2 separate regions of the Homo sapiens genome follow, and region 2 is linked to region 1. The links come from fine-mapping of genetic effects on gene expression. Tissue or cell type: whole blood. Region 1 holds a variant in brackets; the other region holds the start of a gene. All regions are shown on one strand. Distances are between the middles of the regions.

Evidence for each region. PIP is the estimated chance that this variant, and not a neighbour inherited with it, causes the effect.
Region 2: SCARA5 starts here. The variant in region 1 is fine-mapped to the expression of SCARA5 in whole blood (TOPMed, PIP above 0.99).

The regions. Positions count from the first base shown.
Region 1 is chr8:27,886,681-27,894,945 of GRCh38, reverse strand. All of the region lies in intron 7 of SCARA5 (scavenger receptor class A member 5), which reads left to right. Among named protein-coding and RNA genes, the nearest start is that of MIR4287, 4.7 kb to the right of the region's middle. RefSeq lists enhancers at 1-23, 1,536-2,122. The variant C/T (reference allele first, on the strand shown) is at 4,564.
Region 2 is chr8:27,988,112-27,994,743 of GRCh38, reverse strand. SCARA5 (scavenger receptor class A member 5) reads left to right here and starts at 2,071. Exons shown (of 9, transcript NM_173833.6): 1 at 2,071-2,487.

The DNA.
Region 1 (8,265 bases):
TTCTCAGAGCCCCTCAAATGCTGTGAGTCCCATTCATCCATTCATTGCCCCACTCATTCATTCCACACCATCTGTTGAGCACTGGAACGTGCAGGCTCTCTGTTTGCTGCAGGGATGTGATTTGGAACCACAAGGATGCAGAATGGTGGCCCCCTTCACGCAGCTTCCCATGGGGAGTGCAGAGAGACACGGAAGAGGGAATCATGGTGCAGGATTTCTCATTAGTGGAGAGCACATGCTGGGGCCACAATCAGGGAAGCCTTCCCAGAGGAGGTGACATCTCTCTGCCTTACTCACAAGGCCCCACAACTAGGGAGTTGTGTAGCCGGGGCTTGATCCCAGATCCACATTCTCCCACAGAGCTTCTCAGCCTTGGCTGTGCACCAAAATCACCTACGAATTGTTTAAAACTGGCCCCTCACACTGGTGGGTTTCAGAGCTTCCCAGGTGCTTCCCAGATACAGTCAAGACTGGAGCTACTGCTTTCAGTCTAAGACTCATTCCCTTAAGCCTGAGAAGAGTGGATCCGGCAGACCCCATAGGGCTGTTGTGAGATGGATGAAAAGCACTTTATGTTTGGAGAGGGCTGTTATTAAATATTTGTCTTAAGCATTCAGCCTGAGAGTCGCCTCTGTGGATTGAAAATAACAAGCCTTTGCCCTTCTCTCTGACTCTTCCATGTGGCAGCTGTGTGACCCTGAGCAAATTTTTACTTGACTTTTCTGAGCCTGTTTTCTCTTCTGTTAAATGAGCTGTAATAACTAACTCATGGAGCTCCTCTGAAGAAGAAATGAGCAAATGCACGCACAAAGCACTTTGCACAGTGCCCAGCCTGTGCACGACGGGACCTCAGTAGATAATCATTCTCTCCTCTTTTTATGCCTGACTTGAGCTCTGTCCTGGGTAGTACCCAGAACTTGGCTGTGTTGTCGCTGGGTTTGGGGATGGCCCTGAGCCAGGTGTGGCCAAGCCCTGCTGGCAGTAGATAGCTCTGAGGTTACCCCAGCCTTGGAAGCCAGTTCTGAGAGATGGCAGCCACTGGCCACTACACAGTCCTCCTAAACCCGCTGGGGGCGGAGTAATAAAACCACTTGCTCAGTTGCGCTGAAAGAAGGAAAAGGCTGTTCCTCATCTCACACCCCAGTGATAGCCATGAATCCCCAAGCACACAGTGTAAAATAAGGTAGGGAATAATCAGATGCAAAACCCTGGGATGTCCAGAGATGCCAGGGCGAGTAAGTGAAACCAGATCCTGGCTTTAAAATCCTGTAATGCATTCCCCAGAGATGCTGTCGGGTTCCCTTCCATTCCCAGAGGCAGGATGAGCAGCTGTCTGGTGTGCTACAGAGAGGAGAGGATCTGTGTGTTTGAAGTAGAGGGGAGGGGTTCAAGGCCAATGTCCGAGACCCCTTCCAGCTCCAGGGTTCAGGGGCATCTGGGGTAAGACTCAGCCTGCTTTGCCTGGGACCTTGCTTGTCTGACATATATATTTACAAAACAAAGAGAGCAAAGAAATGTTTGTTTTGAGAGGAGAATCCCCACATAGTAGATTTCTAAGGTCTGCACTAGGAGCTCAAGCGTGGTCGCAGCCCTAGCATTGCATTCCTGGGCCATTCCAGAGCTGCCTTGCTTAACAAATAACATCCAGTTTGCATCAATGTACAGAAAGTTGCTGACAGCAGGAGCCGGTCTTCTGCCTCACGGATGCCCTGGTCCTAATATGCTAAGGAGCCAGGAACCAAGCCCTGGGGAGAACAGAAGTTAGGAGGAGACTCATTCAATTCAGGGGATGAGCCTTTTTGTTCCTGCTTCCTACGAGTGCAAAAAGGCTTTCAAGGATACATCCCTGCTTGGCCACTGGTGTCCAAGCCATCCCAAGCATGGGGACCCTTGGAGCTGACCCACACGCTGCTGGGAGGACTGCCACCTGACCAGGGGTGGGAGCTCACAATGATGAGACCTCACGTTAGGTGCCAAGTCCTTGACATGCCCTGTTGCTCCCAGCCGCCACCATGATGTCCACTTTAAGAAGAGGTGAGAGGCTGGGTGCGGTGGCTCACGCCTGTAATCCCAGCACTTTGGGAGGCCCAGGCAGGCGGATCACGAGGTCAGGAGATCGAGACCATCCTGTCTAACACGGTGAAACCCCATCTCTACTAAAAAATACAAAAAATTAGCCGGTCGTGGTGGCGGGCGCCTGTGGTCCCAGCTACTCGGGAGGCTGAGGCAGAATAGCGTGAACCCCGGAGGCGGGGCTTGAGTGAGCCAAGATCGCACCACTGCACTCCAGCCTGGGCAACAGAGCTTGACTCCGTCTCAAAAAAAAAAAAAAAAAAAAAGGGTGAGGTATGGAGAGGTCACTTCTGGCCTATGGTGGAGTCAGATTCCAATCCTGCTCCTGAGTCCAGCTGCCTCCTTCCACCCTCCTGAGTTATCTCCCCACAGGAATCACCATGACAGTGTGTGATGCCTTGCAAATTCCTAATTTCCCCAGGACCCACAGAGGCAAGTAGCTGATCAGTTCTCAGATGGGTGCATGGGATTCACAGGTGCCCTCTTCAGGCTTTTCCAGTCCCAAGAACCAGAGACTCATCCGGGTCATTTCAAGTAATGAGGATATGCAAGGAGATTTGGGATAACCAGGACCCATAGTTCAGGTGGGCCTTGTGGATCCTGGCATGAGAAGGTCACTCGGAATCCAAGGCCGTTCTGGGGGCCACTGCCCTTTGGCTCAGCTTTTCACTGGGAGGCCTCTTCTCCAACATGGCTTATTGATTCCACCATCCCTGCCTCTCAGTCTCTTTGTGTCTGCTCAGCTCTCTCCGTATTCCCCAGTGTGAACTGCTGGGAGAGGTGGCCCTGCTAATCTTCATCAGAGAGGCTGGGACAGAACTTCTGAGTCAGGCCAATGATTCACGGTCTTTCCCACGTGGAAGGCAATGCCCATGGGCTGTGAGCATGGCACACACCCAACCAGCCTGTTGAGAGCCACGCTCTAACCACATCTGACGTCTAAGACAGACAAAGCTGGACCCTAGTTACAGTGATAAGAACAGATTGTAATCAGCGATAACTATTGCAGCAGGGAGGAGTCCAGCATGAACTGAATGCCACCTCGATGTGTACAGAGGTGACGGGTATTTTAAGGGAAAATGAGGGATTAGGGAGAGGGAAGAGTGGGGACTCAGTAGAGTCAGGGAGGTGAAAAATTACAAAAAGCAGAAAGGAGCTAGTTCATGTAAAACCCATCTGGGTTTGATAACTGGTGCTTATCACAGTGAGGCTTCTGCATCCCACGGGGGACAGGGGCCCTGTCTTCAGGTGTTGGCTGGAACATACAGGAAATTCTTTTGGTAGTCTTGCATTTTCTCAGGCAGGCACTTTAAGGGGGTCCAGATCATCCTAGGAGCGGAATCTTGAGCTATTAGAAACTATATTAGTAGGCTGGGCGCAGTGTCTCACGCCTGTAATCCCAGCACTTTGGGAGGCCGAAGCGGGCAGATCACGAGGTCAAGAGATCGAGACCATCCTGGCCAACATGGTGAGACCCTGTCTCTACTAAAAATACAAAAAGTAGCCGGGCATGGTGGTGCACACCCATAGTCCCAGCTACTCAGGAGGCTGAGGCAGGAGAATCACTTGAACTCTGGAGGTGAAGGTTGCAGTGAGCCGAGATTGTGCCACTGCACTCCAGCCTGGATGACAGAGCGAGACTCCTCCATTTAAAAAAAAAAACAAAAAAAAAACAAACCTATTGTAGTTCTGTTCACATCTATACAGACATGTCTTGTGTCTTTATAGAGGGAAGGTTGAGGTTCAGGAGAGCACCTGGCTACAGAGTCTTTGTCACTGATCCCCTCAACAACCCTGAGAGGCCCATGGGACAGTGAAGAAATGAGGAAGTCTGAAATGCCTCTCAGACTTGCGAGAGCACTTGTAGCTTGCCTGGACTGGCCCTGCCCATCCAGTCTCTGCCCTGGGCTCCCCTCACCCACCACGCTGCTTGCTTCAGACCCACACCTGCCGGGACAACCTGGAACTGCCTCGCAGCATTTTGCATCCAAAGAAGAGACAGGGTGAAATACCTCTGTGTCCCCAAGGCTAGATCGATACATGTTTAGACATCAATTAGCAAGGCGGGGATATAGAATGACCTTCAGAAGGGCAGCACAAATCGATGAAATCCAGGGTCAGGCCCCAAGTCACTGTGTGCACAGCGAGCTGTGGCCTCCGTGCTGGGGCAGCACCTTTCCCACCCCTCCCACCCTGAGCAGGTGGGATCTGTGGGTGAGAACAGCACCCATTCTGAATATGCAGGCACTGGAGGTTGAGACTGGAACCAGGGATCCGGAGGCATTCAGAAGGGGATTCCAATCATGCTTGCTCATAAAGTCACGCACACATCTACCCATTGCCCTCCACGCCATCTATTCAGCATTTAGGGCCCTCAGCCAGCCACGTGTCATGTTAAGTGTTAAGGGGCCATGGACAAACAAGACATGGTCTCTATTTCCAAGGGAAAATAGTATATGTGCTTGTAACCTTCACAGATGGAGAGCAGTG[C/T]CACCTGGTTCTAGGAGTGCCAGCCTGCCCCACCCTGGGCCCTGCTGGTTTAACCTCAAACTGTCTTCTCTCTGTATTATGGTTTGTTACTGAAAGTAGCCAGCATCAGAAAGAGAAGTGGTCTCAAAAGAGAAGGATCTGGCATCCCAGTAATGGCTGGTGACTTCTCTGTCAACTTCAGTTTCCTCATTTCTAACTGAGGGTTTTGGAGCCCCTGAGTTCTCTGCCAGCTTTGACATTCTGTGGTCTTTCTTATCTATTTTAAACTCTTAGTTCATTTGAGTGAGTCCAGGGCAAAGACAATACTTATTTATCCTTGCATCCTTAGTGCCTAGCACAATCCTGGAATGTGGTAGTAATTCCATACCTGCAAATTGATGGATAAATAAATATGCAATTGAAAAAATAAACACAGACATTGATAAAATATACATAAAGAATTAATACAGATAATGCATTTTTAGTGCTGCATATCTGTGCACGGGAAGTAGAATCACCCCGGACTTCAACAAATATTATCACTTTCCTCAAAAGCCAAGGCTGGTTTATCCTTCCCCTGCGTGCAATCGTTGACATGTTCATTTTCAAATGCAAACTCAGCAATGGCTGTGCTTCACAAAGGCAACCCTGTCTTCTTGGTTCTCCCATAAGACTCAGGAGAAACCAAGCTGTTTCTATGAATTTTAGTTAGAAGCATTGCAGTTCCAGGGTTAAAGTAATTGTTTTTCATGTAACTGCTCCATCAAAAGGCATCTTGCATCAAAGTCGTGATGCAAATTGGTGGACCATGCTCAGGGATCTTCTGAAGAAAGGATTCTGGGAAAGAAAGGAGGGTGTAGATGGAGAACTGGCCCGAGGGCTAAGTCTCAAGTTCAGGCCCCAGCTCTTCTGCTAGCTACGGGATGACTTGGGTAAGGCACGTCACCTCTCTGGGCCTCTGCTCCCACACGTGTCATGCAAAGAGTGTGGACTGTGTCATCTTCAAGTCTCTACCAGCTGGCAAATGCTATGCTTCACCATCATTTGTGATTATTGGAAAAGCCCAAAGATGATGTCATAATTACCGAAAAATCACTCCAAGCACTAAGTAATGGGACATCTGTTGCCGACAACTAAGCTAATGGAAGTTGTTCCTAGTGATATCCTGAGAAAATGCTAAGATTCCTTGTCCAGACCCATGCCTTGATCTTCTCCATGACCTGGCCTCATCTGTGCCTCAGCTGTACCCTCTTTACTGGGGAACAAGCTCAAGCTTTGAGAGATTTGGGGCCTGTAGAAGGAGGGTGGCTGAGGACCATGGGGTTGGTCCCGGTGGGGCCTGGGTGAAGGGCAGGCTCAGTACAACAGGTTGAGGAATGGGGAGGCAGGTGCTGTGGTCTGGGGCTGCAGTGAGGCAGAGAGCTCCAAGCCGAGGCTGGAATTGACACTCCAGAAAAGTTGTGGGGTGAAACAATGAGCCCCTTGATCTGGGAGACAGCAAGGAGGCTACCCAGCCAGGAGCCAGTCTCCTGCCCTGTGTTCCCTCAAACCACTTTCCTCTCCTAGGGTTACACAGTGAAACCAGGCAGGGATGCTCTGGTCTGGGCTTTGAGGTGACAGCACTTTTCTCTTTCTGCTTCTCTGTATCAAAGGGAAGAACCTTGGTCACAGGGTGTTGATGGGGCTTGTAACCAAACCGAAGTGGGATCTTCTTGCCTGGCATGGTAAAGCCAAACATCCATACTGAAGTTGTGCAGTGGGAGGAAGCATGGTGTTTATTTGCAAGGCACCAAGCAAAGAAAATCTGGTAGCTCACACTTAAGACTCAACCTCCTGGATGGCTTACAAGCAAGGCTGTTTAAAGGCAATGGTAAATTTCAGGAGAGCAGAAGTTACAGGCAAATTTCTAAATCAAGACATGGATGTTATACATTGGTTTGGCCTAAAAAGGTGGGAAATCTGGAAGCAAGGGCTTACAGGTCATACATGGCTTCAAAGACTTTCTGATTTGCAATTGGTTAAGGAAGGGAAACTTTGTCTAAAAACTTGGGTTCAGCAGAAAGGAATATTAAGGTCTGGCCTGTGGATGTGACTTCTTCCAGGTCCTCAGAGCTAGCTAGGTGCCTGGAATTTTCCTTTATTCTGTGGCACTGGAGAATAAAGAATAAACACAATCATTAGCTGGGCATGGCAGCATGCACCCTGTAGTCCCAGCTACTTGGGAGGCTGAGGCGGGAGAGAATGGCTTGAGCCTGGGGGACAGAGGTTGTAGTGAGCCGAGATCATGCCACTGCACTCCAGCCTGGGTGACAGAGCCAGACCTTGTCTCAAAAAAAAAAGTCCGTCAATCAGAGTTCAGGCCTCAGTTTCCCCTCATTTGAGGTCTATATGCCAGCAAATCCATTTGGTTCTGGGTTTCTGAAAAACATCCAGCTGGGTTTCTGAAAAACACCTCAGGGACATATGTTAAGATGTTCTCTTTAGTTTCTATAGAGAGTCATCAGAGGTTGACTCTAACTTCTTTGACTATTGCTTTAAGCTACTATTTCTTTCTTTCTTACCAAGTTGCTCATTTACTTCTTGGGGCTAGCCTAGAATTTCCCTTGAAGATACTCAAGATTTTCTTTTATTTCCATGTTTGGGGGCCTAGCAGCCCCTAAGTCCCTGCTCCATCTCGGGCTTGTGGTCCCCAGTTCTGGGGAAGCAGGGAAAAGATGAACAGAGATGAGCCCTGTGGATATCTGGGTGTCTCTGCTATGGGGGGCAGGGGTGGGCATTACAAGAAAAAGCTCTGCCAAAGCCTTGTGGGATGGGGATTGGAATAAGCTGTCAAGAACAGCCTCTCCTTGTTTTTAGTAAGGAATAGCTCTTGGTGTTTCCCTTCAGCTTGGGTTTTCCAGCCAAGTGATGCTATGTGCCGGTGCCATTCCTGCACAGAGCTGGTAGGGACCAGCCTTGTAGCCAGTACCATCCTCTTAACTTGCAAACCATGAAGGCATGGACAGGTAGACCCCAGTCTGCAGGTTAGGGATCCAGAACAAGAGGAAAAGTGTGATAGTCTCTGCACCTAACGCCCTCACCTGAGGGGTGCAAATCAGATACCCACACGGGAGTGGTATGGGGCAGGGTTTTCTTCCGGGTTGCTGATCCTCATTTGCTCAGGAAGGGTTTTCCAGGGCTCAATGTGGTATGATGCCAAGGAGGAGGTGAAGGTGCCTCGCAGTCATTGAAGGGCAGTTACTAGGGGACGTGGCTGCAACCTCGAAAGCCTGGGGTCCCATTGCTCATCACCAGCTCTCTTGCCCTTTGCCCTCTACCTGGAGCATCTGCTCTTGCTTTGGAGCCTAGGAGTCTCTGAATTTCACACAATCAAGAATCCCTGTCTCCCATTTTCCTCCACTGCCACGTGCAGAGAGAGGCATCTCCCTGACTCCAGTAGCCCCGTTCCCCCTGCAGGGACCCTCCTGGGGGGCATCTGAGGAAAAAACTCCCTGGACTGACAGGAAGAGTCTTGGGGAAGTCACGGACCAGGCTGAGGCTGCCTCTCAGTCACCACTTCTGATTAAGTCGGGGCTGACACATTGTGGGGCAAGAGCATTTCCCAGTGGTGGTTGGTGGCTTGGTGGGAAAGCTTTGACCTGGGGCAGAAACTGCCGGGAAAAAGCAGCATTTAAACCCTCTGCCCACAGAAACCCAAACCTCTTAAATGATGACGTCCTTCTC
Region 2 (6,632 bases), 100 kb before region 1:
GCAGCTTTATTCATAATAGACAAAGATTGGAAACATCCCAAACCCCCTTCAGCAGGAGACCGATATACACATTGTGTGTGGTATGTGCCTATCACGCAATAGGACTCAGTGCTTCGAACAGGGCGGGAGGTGGGAGGACAAGCGAGGATGAGCGTGGAGTCCTCACATGGCAGAAAGGCAGAGGATCAAGCCAGCCCACTCCTGCAAGCCCTTTCTACGGCATCCCAAATACATTCATGACTCAAATACCCCCACAAAGGCCCCACCTCCCAACACTGTTGCAATAAAGATTACATTTCCAATGCTTGAATTTAGGGGGACACTAACTACCACATTTCTTGCTAACATACACATCTCTTTAGGGAAGGTCTTTGGACATCACTTTTTTTTTTAAGACAGGATCTTGTTCTGTTACCCAGTCTGGGGTGCAGTGGTGCGATCACAGCTCACTGCAGCCTCAAACTCCTGGGCTCAGTTGATCCTCCCATCTCAGCCTCCCAAGCACCTGGGACTACAGGTGTGCATCACCACGCCCAGCTATTGTTTGTATTTTTTTTTTTTTGTAGAGACAGGGTTTTGTCATGTTGCCCAGGCTGGTTGGACATCATATTTTGAGCACATTTCTGGCTGTTTTTAAGATTACATTCCTAGGAATGTTGGTGAATTGATGGGGGACAAAAACATTTGTTTCCCCTTGAGAGGCAATGGTACAGGGGAGGGGTTAAGAGCATAGACCCTAGGATCACATTGCCTAGGGTTGAATACTAGCTCTGCCACTTACTGGCTACAAGACCCTGGACAAGTCACTTCCTCTCTGTCTCTGTAAATGAGCATAATAGCAGCACCTGCCTCAGGGGGTTGTTGAATAGGTTCAATGAGCTAATATATAAGAAACACATGGTATATGCTATAAAGTGTTGTCTTCTTTTCCTTCTCCTCCTCCGCTCCCTGGGATTATTACCATAATGATACAATTATCATTTGTTCTTTCTGTAAAATGGAGTTTGATGTTGGAGCTGCTTCCTAGGCAGTCAGGCAGGGCAGTCACTGAGAATGAGGACGGCGTTTCTGACTCAGCTGTGGGCGGGCAGCTGCAGTGACACAGCTGAGTCTTGGCAAACACTTTTCATGTACGAAGCCTGACCCTGGAGTCTTGAGGCTGAACTTTTCACCAACAAACAGGAATGCATTCATGAATGTTACCTCTGGGTGCTGTCCTCTGGAAGCCATCTGCATAGCCTAACTCTGCCACCCTGGCTTGGACAATTATGGTGATTTCTCTGATGCCCCTGATACTACCACCTCAATCTGAATTTAGCAGCTCCCTTCACATATGGTTAGATTGCCTTTAAAGAGATTTTTTTTTTTTTTAGAGATGGGGTCTCACTATGTTGCCCAGGCTGGTCTTGAACTTGTGGGTGGGCTCAAGCAATCCTCCCACCTCAGCCTCCCAAAGTGCTGGGACCACAGGTGTGAGTCACTGCACCCGGCCTAGATGTCCTTTTTCAAACGTAAGCAATCATGCTCAGGTTTAGGATTATTCGTGCCTGGGTCCCCCTCCCATACTGAATTGCTATGGACAGCCAGCTAGTCTTCATCCTGCACCCCCCAGCCCCTGTGCAGCGTTAATGAGCCAGAAACGCTGATTCTGCTGCTGAGTTCCGTGGAACCCCCTGGGGCATTTTCCTGACTACCCCCAGTGTGGCCAATCCGTGTCCACTGAGGATGAATGTGACTCCAGGAAAATACATGAAGTAACTCTGTGCCAAGCTTGGTGAATGAATTGAGCCATGCCAATTCTGTGCTATAAATAAATTTACAAGACTGGTTTTCTTGCGTGGCTCATAAGCCAGGTCTAGCTGCCACTCCCCCAGAAGTCTTCCAAAAAGTATTTTGAGCAGGACCTTTAGACTGGGGTGTTGGAGTCCCAAGGCCAAGGCCGACCGCGCTGCTCTGGGCCCAGCGGGCGTTCCCACACGGGGCTGTAATGCCACGATTGGCCGCAGGAGGGGGGCCGTATTCCAGACCCCATTGCAGAAGCCTCCGCAACTGCTCCAAGAACTTTATTTTATACGGACTGGCGGCGAGAGCAGCTGCAGTTCGCATCTCAGGCAGTACCTAGAGGAGCTGCCGGTGCCTCCTCAGAACATCTCCTGATCGCTACCCAGGACCAGGCACCAAGGACAGGGAGTCCCAGGCGCACACCCCCCATTCTGGGTCCCCCAGGCCCAGACCCCCACTCTGCCACAGGTTGCATCTTGACCTGGTCCTCCTGCAGAAGTGGCCCCTGTGGTCCTGCTCTGAGACTCGTCCCTGGGCGCCCCTGCAGCCCCTTTCTATGACTCCATCTGGATTTGGCTGGCTGTGGGGACGCGGTCCGAGGGGCGGCCTGGCTCTCAGCGTGGTGGCAGCCAGCTCTCTGGCCACCATGGCAAATGCTGAGATCTGAGGGGACAAGGCTCTACAGCCTCAGCCAGGGGCACTCAGGTGAGTCTTGGTACTAATTTTGTCCTATCTCCTGGGCATGCTGTCTCAAAGACAGCTGGAGGAGACTGGAGTGAACTGGATGGAGAGGAGTACAGAGTTTGGGAAACTTCAGACCTAGAGCCTGGAGGTGCCTTCTCCAGGTGGGAAGGTCCCCGCCTGCTGGGCCCGCAGATATCTGCCGGGCCCTCATCCAACTGCCTGGGCTGGAGAGAATGTGAGCCTGCATTTGGGGTGCCAGAGGGAAGCTATTGCCTTGGTGGCTACTCCACCTGACTCATGTCACAGCTCAAGAGCCTACTCAGGGTGCAGATGGCTCAGGTGACAGCTCCTCTCCATGGCTTCGTGTGTGTGCATGTGTGTGTGTGCATGTGTGTGTGTGCATGTGTGTGTGTGTGCATGTGTGTGTGTGTGCATGTCTGTGCGTGTGCATGTGCCAGTGGTGGGATATATGTGGGGAGAGGTTATTTCTAAAATATCTGTCTCTGTCCAGCTTTGGGTTATGATTTAGCTTAACTAAGTACAGTTAGAGGAGGAAAACATTTAAAACCTCCTTAGTGATTCTCTCTTTGGAGAAGGGCCACACTCATGTGATTTTTTTCCTTGGTTTTGATGAGTTTAAAGTGAGGTAATCCAAAGAAAAGCCATAAACCCTGCAGAGTTAGATGCGGGTACCCAGAGAAACTGACTTGGTAGCAGCAAATGAGGCTCGTGCTACCCACTCAGAGGAGGAATTAATGGAGTCCTTCTGATCTCCAGAGAAGGATTGAAGAGCCAGGGTCCTGATATCAGCCCTAGAGTGCATTCGCGATTGCCTTTTACAAAGGGAACTTCAAACAGCTTTGTTTCTGAGACTGGCTAGGTAGGAGGGAGGCCTTGGGAACCTGGACACCCCCTTACCTGGCTGCCAGGCAGAGTCAGAAGATGCTGGGGGATGCTTTTTCTCATCAGACTGCCACCAGCTCCCCTGAGTGACCTTGTTCATAAAGTCATGCCACATGCATTATCTCACGGGAGGCTCACAGTGATCCTGGGTGACCAGCAGCTACCCACCTTCCCATCTTAGAGGTCATGTACCTGAGGCTGAATGAGGTCAGGTAATTGAGCCAAGTTCCCCCAAGAAACCAATACGCAGAGGAGCTAGGATGGGAGCCCTTGGCTTCTGTGTTCCCTGCATTCCTGCAGAGAGCCAGGCCTGCAGGGCGCAGATGGCCCCAGGGCACAGGGCTGCAGGGCACAGATGGCTGAGGGCTTTTCCAGCTCTAAAATGCAGAATCTAGAAGCAGATCCCTGGCTCTGAACCTGCCCTTCTAAGTGCCTTGGGTGAAATTGTCTGGAAGTAAATCATGATTGCCAAGAGGTTAGTGGAGAGGGTGACACCTCCCTGTTAGAGCAAGACCTCCCTCTTTGAGTTGCAAGTTGAGGTCCAGTCTCCTTGGGCTTCATCCACAGGTCACTGTGGCTTCCACATCTCGCCCATGTGCTTCAAGCTCTCAGAGCCCTGCCTCAGTCCCAGGATCCCCACCTGCTGGAGTACACTGGCTGGCAGTCTGAGGTGGGATTCTCTTCTCTGCCTGATCTGGGGCCCAGAAAGTGGTCACCAAAGGGGCTGACATGCAATTCCCAAACAAAGCAACCCTGCAGCTGAGCCAGTGCCCTGTGTAGGAAAACTGTGCCCGGGGCCTCTTCCCGCTCTGATATCCATTCCTTCCTTTGCCTCTTTGGTCTGGGATGGCTTATGTTTAAAATGGGAGGGACGGAATGCAAATGCCATCAGCCTACCCCCAACACAGTGCTCCTGGGAGGAGCACTTGCCATCAGTTTCATCTTCTAGAGCACAGACTTGGTCCAAAGACAGTAAGATCCATGATCTGAGGGTCCCAATGCCTGCTTCCTCCCCCAAGAAAGAAAAACAGCCCCCAAGAAACCTTGGGCAGACAGAACATGCGTAGGTTTCAATTCCAAGTAACAAACATGAGTAGAGTTGTCTGAGCTTTTCCAAGCCCTGTGCACTCACATCTGGCCCCGCTCGGCCCCAGTCCCTCTCCCCAGCAGATCCCCTGGGCTCCTGCTGGACCAGCTGAGGGGTGGGGAGGAGGAAGGAGACAGCTGCCCTTCACACACATTCTGGCTAACAAGCCGTGCATTCCAGCCCCGTCCCAGGAGCTGACCAGAAGAGGAGGAAGGTGGAAATGGCAGTGGGGCCTCACACCTCCACTCCCCAGGGGCAGCGCCCTGTCTGGCTCTGTGTGGCCTCTGGGAAGCAGAGGCTATTGCCTTTGGCAGAGGGAGGGTTATTGCAGGCAAAAGAGACATTGGCCTCCTGCTTCACAGCCCCGCAAGGAGTGAAGCCAGAGGGAGGGCTGCCGCACACAGTGCTCATGAAATGAGGGAGGGTCCCTTGCAACTTAGCAGTGCTGGAGCTGCCCGCGGCCCCACCTAGAGGCCCTGCCTGGGTGGAGGCATTGGGTGGAGGGCCGGAATTGGGAGCCCAGTGAACTGGACACCACTGCAGCACAGGGAAGCCAGAGTGGGTGGTGTCTGGGGCAGGGAGGAGAGATCCTGGCAGAGCCGAGGACCACCCCCTGTTCCATCCCTCCCATAGGCTGGAGGAGAGGCCCGCAGATACTGGGAGCCCCAAGGCTGTGTGTGTGCACATGCGTGTGTGTGCCCGTTATGGGGGATGTACAGAAGGGCTAACAGCAGAGGCGTCCAGCCCTCCTGGGTCATTAGAAGGACATGTATACAGTGACTGGTCAGTTCTGGTCTCTTCTCAGCCCAAATGTCAGAGGTCTGTGGAGGCCAAGCTCAAGTCATGAAAATAGGGGCTTCAGCTGGGTGCAGTGGCTCACACCTGTAATCTCAGCACTTTGGGAGGCTGAGGCCAGTGGAGCGCTTGACTCCAGGAGTTCCAGACCAGCCTGGCCAACATGGTGAAACCCCATCTCTGCAAAAAATTAGCTGGACATGGTGGCTTGTGCCTGTAATCCCAGCTACTCAGGAGGATGAGTTGGGAGGATCACTTGAGCCCGGGAGGCGGAGGTTGCAGTGAGCCAAGACTGCACCACTGCCATCCAGCCTGGGCAACAGAGTGAGACCCTGTCTCAAAAAAAAAAAAAAAAAAAAAAAAGAAAGAAAGAAACAGAAAAAAAAAAAGAAGAAAGAAAATACGGAATTCTTGTTTTGCTCTGCTGCAGAGCAACCCCGCCAGCCGCCTTCCCTGATTATGTCTATTTATGAAAGTTGCCACGCCTCCTTGCCCACCCTCCCTCTGAAGAGAAACTGATTGACTGATCTCTCAATCAACAGGCATTGTCCCCCCACTGCCACCTGCCAGCCCTGCATCCTCTCCTCCCAGCCTCCTCTGGGTTGAAGGGTTGAGTTTGCTCCATACTGGGCCTGGGACCCATCCTCATGGGGCTTTTATCTTCTAAAGGATGCTGTTCTTTGGTTAAATGTCCAGATAGTTAAAGAGAATCAGAAGCAAAGGTCAAGATAAACTCATGGCTGGAACCTTGATGAAAGTAGAGAATAATTTGTAAAGTCACTGAGCATTTATGTGACAAAAACAATATCAAGAAATTGATGTATATACTTTGTAATTTGGCTTAAAAAACAGATTCTTCTCATTACATAAGGAATGTAAATGCATCATAGAAAACCCAGAAAATCTGAAAGCAAAAAGGAATATTAAATCCCCACAATCCCTTCCAGCCAGAGTCCTGTAATACATTTCTCACCCGGAGCCATCATAGCGTCTTACATCCACACGCACCTTACGCGTGCATGTCTTACAAAATGGGATCGTGTTGTACACATTGTTGCGTCAACAGGCTGTTTCCTTTCAAAGAGCATAGGATTCTCCTAAGTCAATGTATATGCTCCTGGACCATCATGGCGTAGACCCAGAGACCCAATGAGTCAGCCTCTGGGGGCCATGCAGACAGAAGCCCTCCCTGGCCTAAAGCTGTCCAGATGCTTAGTGCCTGGGTGTCCCTTCAGAGGCTCCCTGCTCCTCGGGCCCCACCACAGTAGATGAATCCCTGCTGTGGTCCTACTGAGCCAAGCTCCTTCCAACATGCCAGCCCCGTTGGATTTGGGAGCAGTCCTGGTCTGCTCAGCTTTGTTTGCAAGTGGACTCTGTACCC